2 separate regions of the Homo sapiens genome follow, and region 1 is reported to be linked to region 2. Evidence: microRNA targets listed by miRTarBase, many of them from high-throughput screens and not tested one by one. Region 2 holds a microRNA gene; the other region holds the end of a gene's coding sequence.
What was found. Region 2 holds the annotated microRNA hsa-miR-3675-5p (UAUGGGGCUUCUGUAGAGAUUUC, at 1,457-1,479, opposite strand). A microRNA usually pairs through its seed, bases 2 to 8, with sites in the 3' UTR of a target mRNA and lowers its output. Matches are read on the target gene's strand: a 7mer-m8 pairs with bases 2 to 8, a 7mer-A1 pairs with bases 2 to 7 and ends in A, and an 8mer does both.

Region 1: the mRNA of DNMBP is a reported target of hsa-miR-3675-5p. Seed matches in the 3' UTR shown: 7mer-m8 at 2,566-2,572.

Annotation. Positions count from the first base shown.
Region 1 is chr10:99,874,199-99,877,605 of GRCh38, forward strand. DNMBP (dynamin binding protein) reads right to left here. Exons shown (of 17, transcript NM_015221.4): 17 at 1,379-3,138. The coding sequence ends at 2,953. Among named protein-coding and RNA genes, the nearest start is that of DNMBP-AS1, 51 kb to the right of the region's middle.
Region 2 is chr1:16,857,532-16,860,938 of GRCh38, forward strand. It overlaps MIR3675 (microRNA 3675), which reads right to left and starts at 1,490; the gene lies at 1,418-1,490. It also overlaps the pseudogene PDE4DIPP9 and the pseudogene TRV-CAC11-2.

The sequences.
Region 1 (3,407 bases), not on the chromosome of region 2:
AGAGGGTGTTCCGATGTGTGCTGCGCTGCCTGCGGCTGAGGGAGGGGTTGGCACAGGTCCTGTGAACATGTCCTCCCTGCCCTCTCCAATGCATCTTTTCTTAATATTTGCATGCAACACCCAGGTGCTGTCATCTCTCACATGGTTTTCTTAGCGCTTAGGGTATTTTCATGCACAGATAGTTTAAGATGTTTCCATGGGGGGACAAGCACTGAAAGTCCTCCTCCAGTATCTCGCAGCTGTCCTGTTGCAGCATGGTGCATGTATTAACTCACGGAATCTTCCTATCAACTCTACAAGGTGGATGCTATTACTATCTCTACCTCAACCAGGGAACTGAGACAGAGGTGGGTACGTTGCCAAGGTCACAAAGCTGCCAAGTGTCAGAAGCCAGACAGTCTGGCTCCAGAACAAGGTGTACAGACTCAGCCTGAGCCTGCAGGCCCGAGTTTCAATTCACAACCCCTCAAAAACTTGATATATGACTTGGGTGAGTACGAATGTCTCTGGACCCCATTTTCCTAGTCTATCACATGAGAGTAGCATAGGTGACTTATCAGCTGCTTTCCTGCAGCCTACCCAATTCAGTGATTTCTATTCCTTAACAACACTGGGTGATCGCTTTACTGTCACCCACCATACTGTCCTCAATCCCACCTCTGCCACTAGCCCTGCCACTTCCTTCCCTGCCCCCAACTGCCTGAGCTGCTGCTCCGTGACCTTGTTAGATAACCTTGTGTATCAGTGTCCACATCTGCAATATCAGGGAAATACTTATCCCCTAGAGATCCCAGCTCTTCTGTTTCGTTAGAATTTCACAGGACAAGATGAAAATAGAGGCAGTCACCTGCAGCATGGACATATTTTGAGTATACAGAGATTTTTTTTTTTTTTTTTTTTGAGACAGGGTCTTGCTATCGCCCGGGCTAGGGTACAGTGGTGTGATCTTGGCTCACTGCAACCTCTGCCACCCAGGTTCAAGCAATTCTCAGCCACTTGATTAGCCAGGACTATTGGCATGCAGCACCATGCCCGGCTAATTTTTGTATTTTCAGTAGGGATGGGGTTTCACCATGTTGGCCAGGCTGGTCTCAAACTCTTGGCCTCAAGTGATCCGCCCACCTTGGCCTCCCAAAGTGCTGGTGGGATTACAGGTGTGAGCCACCACACTCGGCCTGAGTATATAGAGATTGTTGGAATCTTTGACAGAATGACTTTGGGCCTGCATTTCTTCAGTTAGCCTCTCCCATTCTCCCAGATCTGGACATCACTCATTGTCAAGAAGGCCTCCCCAGAAGCCCAGGAAAAACGTTCAGCTTAAACAAACAAACAAAAAAACCCGTTCAGCTTAAACATGGAAATCAAGAAAACATCCAAGGCCATTAGAAATGCTTTTATTTATAAAAGAACTACTTAAATATAAACATCTCTACATAGAAACACTCTTCACAAAAGGACTCTTGCATTACTGCCTTCTGACCACGACCAGCAGACACTGTGGATGTTAGGACTCCACGGTGTCTCCCGACTCCCAGGATTTTAAGGCTAAATGTGCACTTGGAGGAACAGGGGCTGTAAGGCTATTTCTTCCCTTTCTTTTAAAAGACAAATTTCATGGTTTCCCATTCCAAGATAGGCTTCATAGCTGGGGAAGATCTTAAGATTCTTGGTCTAAGGGGTAAGCAAATATCTTCCTGAGACTGGGAGGTATGATCAGGCACTTGGGAATCTGGCTTTGAATGTCATCTCTGAAGCATGGAAGTTAGTGGTGAAAAAAATCTTATTTCCAAGTCTAGGATAAGCTACTTCTGGAATGGCTTATCCCAATTCAAGTAAGTCACAGGTGTTATGTTGTCTGCATCTATGGATGTAACTAAACAGTCATTAGGGTGCTTGGATGAAGAAGAAAGACATCCAGTCTTCCATTAGGCTCAACTGGTTTCAGCTCAAAGCAGAACTAATACTTTTAATGGAATGGCTGGAGCTCTCATACTGTTACTCTAGGAAAATCTATCAATTATTGAGTCCAGGGCAGGGGGGCCACCAGACATCACAGACTGTGTAAAGACCATCAGAAAGGTGTCATTGAGGTTGCGGTATGGTGGCTTACACCTGTAATCTCAGCAGGGAGGCGGGAGGGTTGCTTGAGCCCAGGCGTTTAAGACCAGCCTGGGCAACATAGCAAGACCCCATCTCAAAAAAAAAAGCGGGGGGGCAGTGATTGTACCTAACAAGGGAAGAGAATCTTTCAGATGAAGGGTCAACAGAAAATAAAGACCCTAAACACTTCTAAAAGTAGAACGCAGTTGAATTTTGCATAACTAATCTGGGAATGGAGTAAAAGAAACAAGGTTACAGAATGTAGTGCTTTAGGGACTTTAGAAATTAGGGGCAGTATGTATGAGAATGTGTGCTGGACACTGGAGGTGTCCCAGGAGCTTTGAAGCACTAGGTTTGGTTCAATCCCGACAAACTCCCAGCCATGTGCAAGCACTGCCTCACGGGGTGCCCAGAGCCATGAATTCTTTTCATCTGAGTTGGCATCCGGTCAGCTGAGCATGGAACATGGGGCCACCCCAAACGCCGTACAGCACAACCATTACCAACACTGTCTATTGCTAGAGCACAGCTTCCTGCATACATAGGACACTGGGCTTCTGACTGCAAGTTTCTCCTTTCCAAAAGCCAGCTCTAAGACTTGTCTCTCTTCTCATAGTCACTAAGTCATTTGCAAAGCCCCAGGGTCCATTTCAAATTCTAGAGATTCTAGTGAGCATCAAGGTTTACAACCCAATCGAGGAGAACAAGATCTGTGGTGTGCTCCACCATGCCATGGTTAAGCAACGCAGACAGGGCCTGTGTCTCAGGAGCAGGCGCCCTCTCGGTGGGCCGCCAGAACCCTCGGCGGACTGAAAGCAAAGGCAGCAAGGCTGGGTGGCAGGCAACGTGGGCTCAGGTGTACTCGGTTTTGCGGATATAATTGGAGGGAACGTAGCCCTTCTTCCCGTTAACCTCAGCTAACCACCACTCTGTATTTCCTGTAACATCTTTAAACTCGAGGATCTTGAGTTTCTGATTGGCTGACACGCTCAGCTCATTTGGGTTTCGTGCCTTGAAGGTGTAGACAGCAAAATAGACCTGTGTGAGGGAGAGAGAGAAAATGGGAAATTGCTGGGAGCAATGCCATCCAACAGCTTCGTGCGGTGTTGGGGAGGGTTCCACATCCACATGCCCACATGTGGCTACTGAGCCCCTGAAATATGGCCAGTGAGACAGAGGAACTGAATTTTTAATCTTATTTAATTTTAACTAAAATAAATTTAAATAGGTACATACGGATGATGGCTACCATAATAGGGATGATTAAAAGAAAACACCAATTTGGCCGGGCACGGTGGCTCATGCCT
Region 2 (3,407 bases):
GTATAGTATAGCATAGTATAGTGGTAATACTGGAATCAGACTGCCTAGCTCTGATGCTTACTACCCATGCAACCTTCTTAACCTTTCTGAGCCTTTGTCATTACCTATTAAATGAGGATGATAACAGAACCCATCTCAAAGGGTGGATATTAGGTTTAAATGAATTAATACAAGTGCTGGCCAGGTGTGGTGGCTCATGCCTGTAATCCCAACATTTTGGGAGGCTGAGGTGGGCAGAACACCCGAGGTCAGGAGTTCGAGACCAGGCTACCCAACATGGTGAAACCCTGTCTCTACTAAAAATATAAAAATTAGGTGGGCATGGTGGTGCACCCCTGTAATCCCAGCTACTCAGGAGGCTGAGGCAGGAGAATCGCTTGAACCTGGGAAGTGGAGGATGCAGTGAGCCGAGATGGTACCACTGCACCCCAGCCTGGGTGACAGAGCAAGACTCTGTCTCAAAAAAAAAAAAAAATTAGTACAAGTGCTTAGAATGGTGCCCAGCATACATTAAGCTCTCAATGCTATTTGCCATAGTTATCAGTGTTATTGACACTTTGTGTTGAAAACACAGACATTCATCTTGGTATGCGTCCTGGTTATCTACTGCTAAGTAAGAACCACTCTAAAACTTAGTGACTTCAAACAGTACTTTATTATGCTTCATGGTTCTGTGGTTTGACTGGGCTCAGCTGGGTGGCTCTCACTTAGGGTCTCTTGTTTTGGGTCTCATCAGTTGATGGCATGAGAGTTTATGTGATGGCCATGATTGCAAAATACAGTCAGCCACAGTATCACAACACAGAAGAAATTCAGACATCAGGTGGTGGTTAAAACAGAAGACATGAAAGGTCCTATCTAGACTTAGGATGAGATGAGTCTAATTATTCATTGAGTATCTGCTGTGAATCTCTGTGATGCTGGTGCTGTAAGGGATGTGAAACGCAGAACTATCTTCATTCTCACAGACCTTACGATTTATCTAGGGACATATAATTAACATATATAGAACAGTTGAAGAACAGTGGCATGGTAAATTTTTTGTTTTGTTTTGTTTTGATACAGAGTCTCACTCTGTCACCCAGGCTGGAGTGCAGTGGTGCCATCTCGGCTCACTGCAACCTCTCCCTCCCAGGTTCAAGCAATTCTCCTCCCTCAGCCTCCCAAGTAGCTGGGATTACAGGCATGTGCCACCATGCCCAGCTAGTTTTTTTGTGTGTTTTTAGTAGAGGAGGGGGTTTCACCATATTGGCCAGGCTGGTCTCGAACTTCTGACCTTGTGATCTGCCTGCCTCAGCCTCCCAAAGTGCTGGGATTACAGGCGTCAGTCACCACGCCCGGCCCATACTAAATTTTTAGTGCAATAATTTATCAGGGTAGAATTTACTCTTAAATACCTCCTATGGCTTACGTGCCAGAATTCAGTTTGGGGGAGTTCCTTAGAGATGTTCTCATAGAAATCTCTACAGAAGCCCCATAACTTATCATCCACCCTTTCCTCTTCTGTCCTGCATTAGGAAATATGATTCCCTGATTCAGGATCAGCCCCGGGAACTGTCTTACCTACGGCAAAAAATACGAGAAGGGAGAGGTGTTTGTTATCTTCTCACCCAGCATGCAAAAGATACAGTAAAATCTTTTGAGGATCTCTTAAGGAGCAATGACATTGACTACTACCTGGGACAGAGCTTCCGGGAGCAACTGGCCCGGGGAAGCCAGCTGACAGAGAGGCTCACCAGCACACTCAGCACCAGTAGGTTGGCCACAGGGCTTTGGATACTCTCAGTCACCCCACAGTTCCAGCCCCTGGTGGCCACCACATCTCCACTGCAACTTTTTAACGTAGGGTCCTGTTTCTATTTCATTTCCTGGGGCTAATACAGGATCAAGACTGCTCAATGGGGAGCATGGAGAGGAACACACAGGGCTGGAGATGCCATGGTTACAACTCTAGAAACTTCACCACTCATGGAATGTGACCTGTGGGGCAGGGGCGGCATCTCTCTGGTGCTAAGAGGGAGTAGGGGACATGACATGGAAGGGCCTTGTTATAGGAGGAAGAGCCGTGAGCTAACAATTGCAAGACGTCGAGGCGCTGAGGCCAAAGGGTCCGTGAGGAAACAGGCGCAGCTCGCGCCCCTCGGCCTACGGGAGGGAGGGCAAGGAGAGTCCTACGGTTCCTGGGAGGACGAGAAGAGCCAAGAGCCCCGACGGCCGGCGCCGGGGAAAAGGCCCCGAGGCGGGGTCCGCATCCCTGGAAGGGCGGCGTCCACCCTCCTGAGAGGCACGGGGCGCCCAGGGCTCGGACGCTCAAAGCCCGCCGGCTCCTGCAGCTTCTGGGAGCCGAAGAGTGTCAGCCGGGAGGATCCCGCACACGGCGCTTAGTTCTGGAACTGCATACCCAGGGGAGGATGCGGGAGCCCGAAGCCCGGGTATGTGTCCCCGAAGCCCGGGTGTGGGTCCCCATGGTTTTCGTGTTGGGGGTGGGCGCGGAACGCTAAGCCTGGGCCTATTGGGAGCCATAGTCTTCTTGATGGCTGGTGCTTATTGGGCTTTTTTCAGTCGAATTTCGAAATGCAGTTGAATTTCTTACTTTGGAAACGATAATAGAAATGGCTGACCTAAGATTTTCATGATGATATTTTGCCTTTTTTGGTGTATATGCAGTTTCTGTGGTGTAGTGGTTATTATGTTCGCTTCACATATGAAAGGTCTCTGGTTCGAGACTGCGTGGGAACATCGTGTTTTGTTTTGTTTTTTTGTCCCTAAATTTAGTGAGTTTAATCGAGGTTGGGAAACAAACAGAAAAGTAGTTGAACCTGTGGCTACACTTTAGACCTCCTCAATCTAGACAGATCGTTGACCAGGCTACAGTTTCCACTGGTCTGCCAGCAAGAGGCCTGCTTAATATTAGCTTTGGTTCCAGAAATTCCTTCAGGTTCTCTTCATTCTCTTCTATCGCCTGTATTTTCACAGGCTGACACTGAAAGTGGATGACATCTTAGTGCATTTCCTAAGGGTCCCGCTTGGCTTCGCTTTACTCTGGTAAGTTGCAGATCTGGCTGATTTGCAAGACAACAAAAACAAAATATTTTTTAAAAAGGTTCTAAATCTGCATCTGGAAGTCATAGAGTCAATATTCCTAAATCACATGAATTATGTGTATACATTTGCATGCATACCCCTTCCCCAAATAATCCTCAGAAAACCGGTTAAGTTTTAGCATCTGTGACTCTGAGATGCATATGAGGCCTTTGTAAATTTAGAAGTTAAGAGTAGAAAGTACAGGTTTGTATTTTAGAAGGAGATTTGGGAATAAATATAGCTCTGGTGGATATAGATCATATGTTAAGGTTTGTTGGCCAGAGCTGGTTTGTGTCTTGGGTGTTGGGCAAAGAACAGAGAAC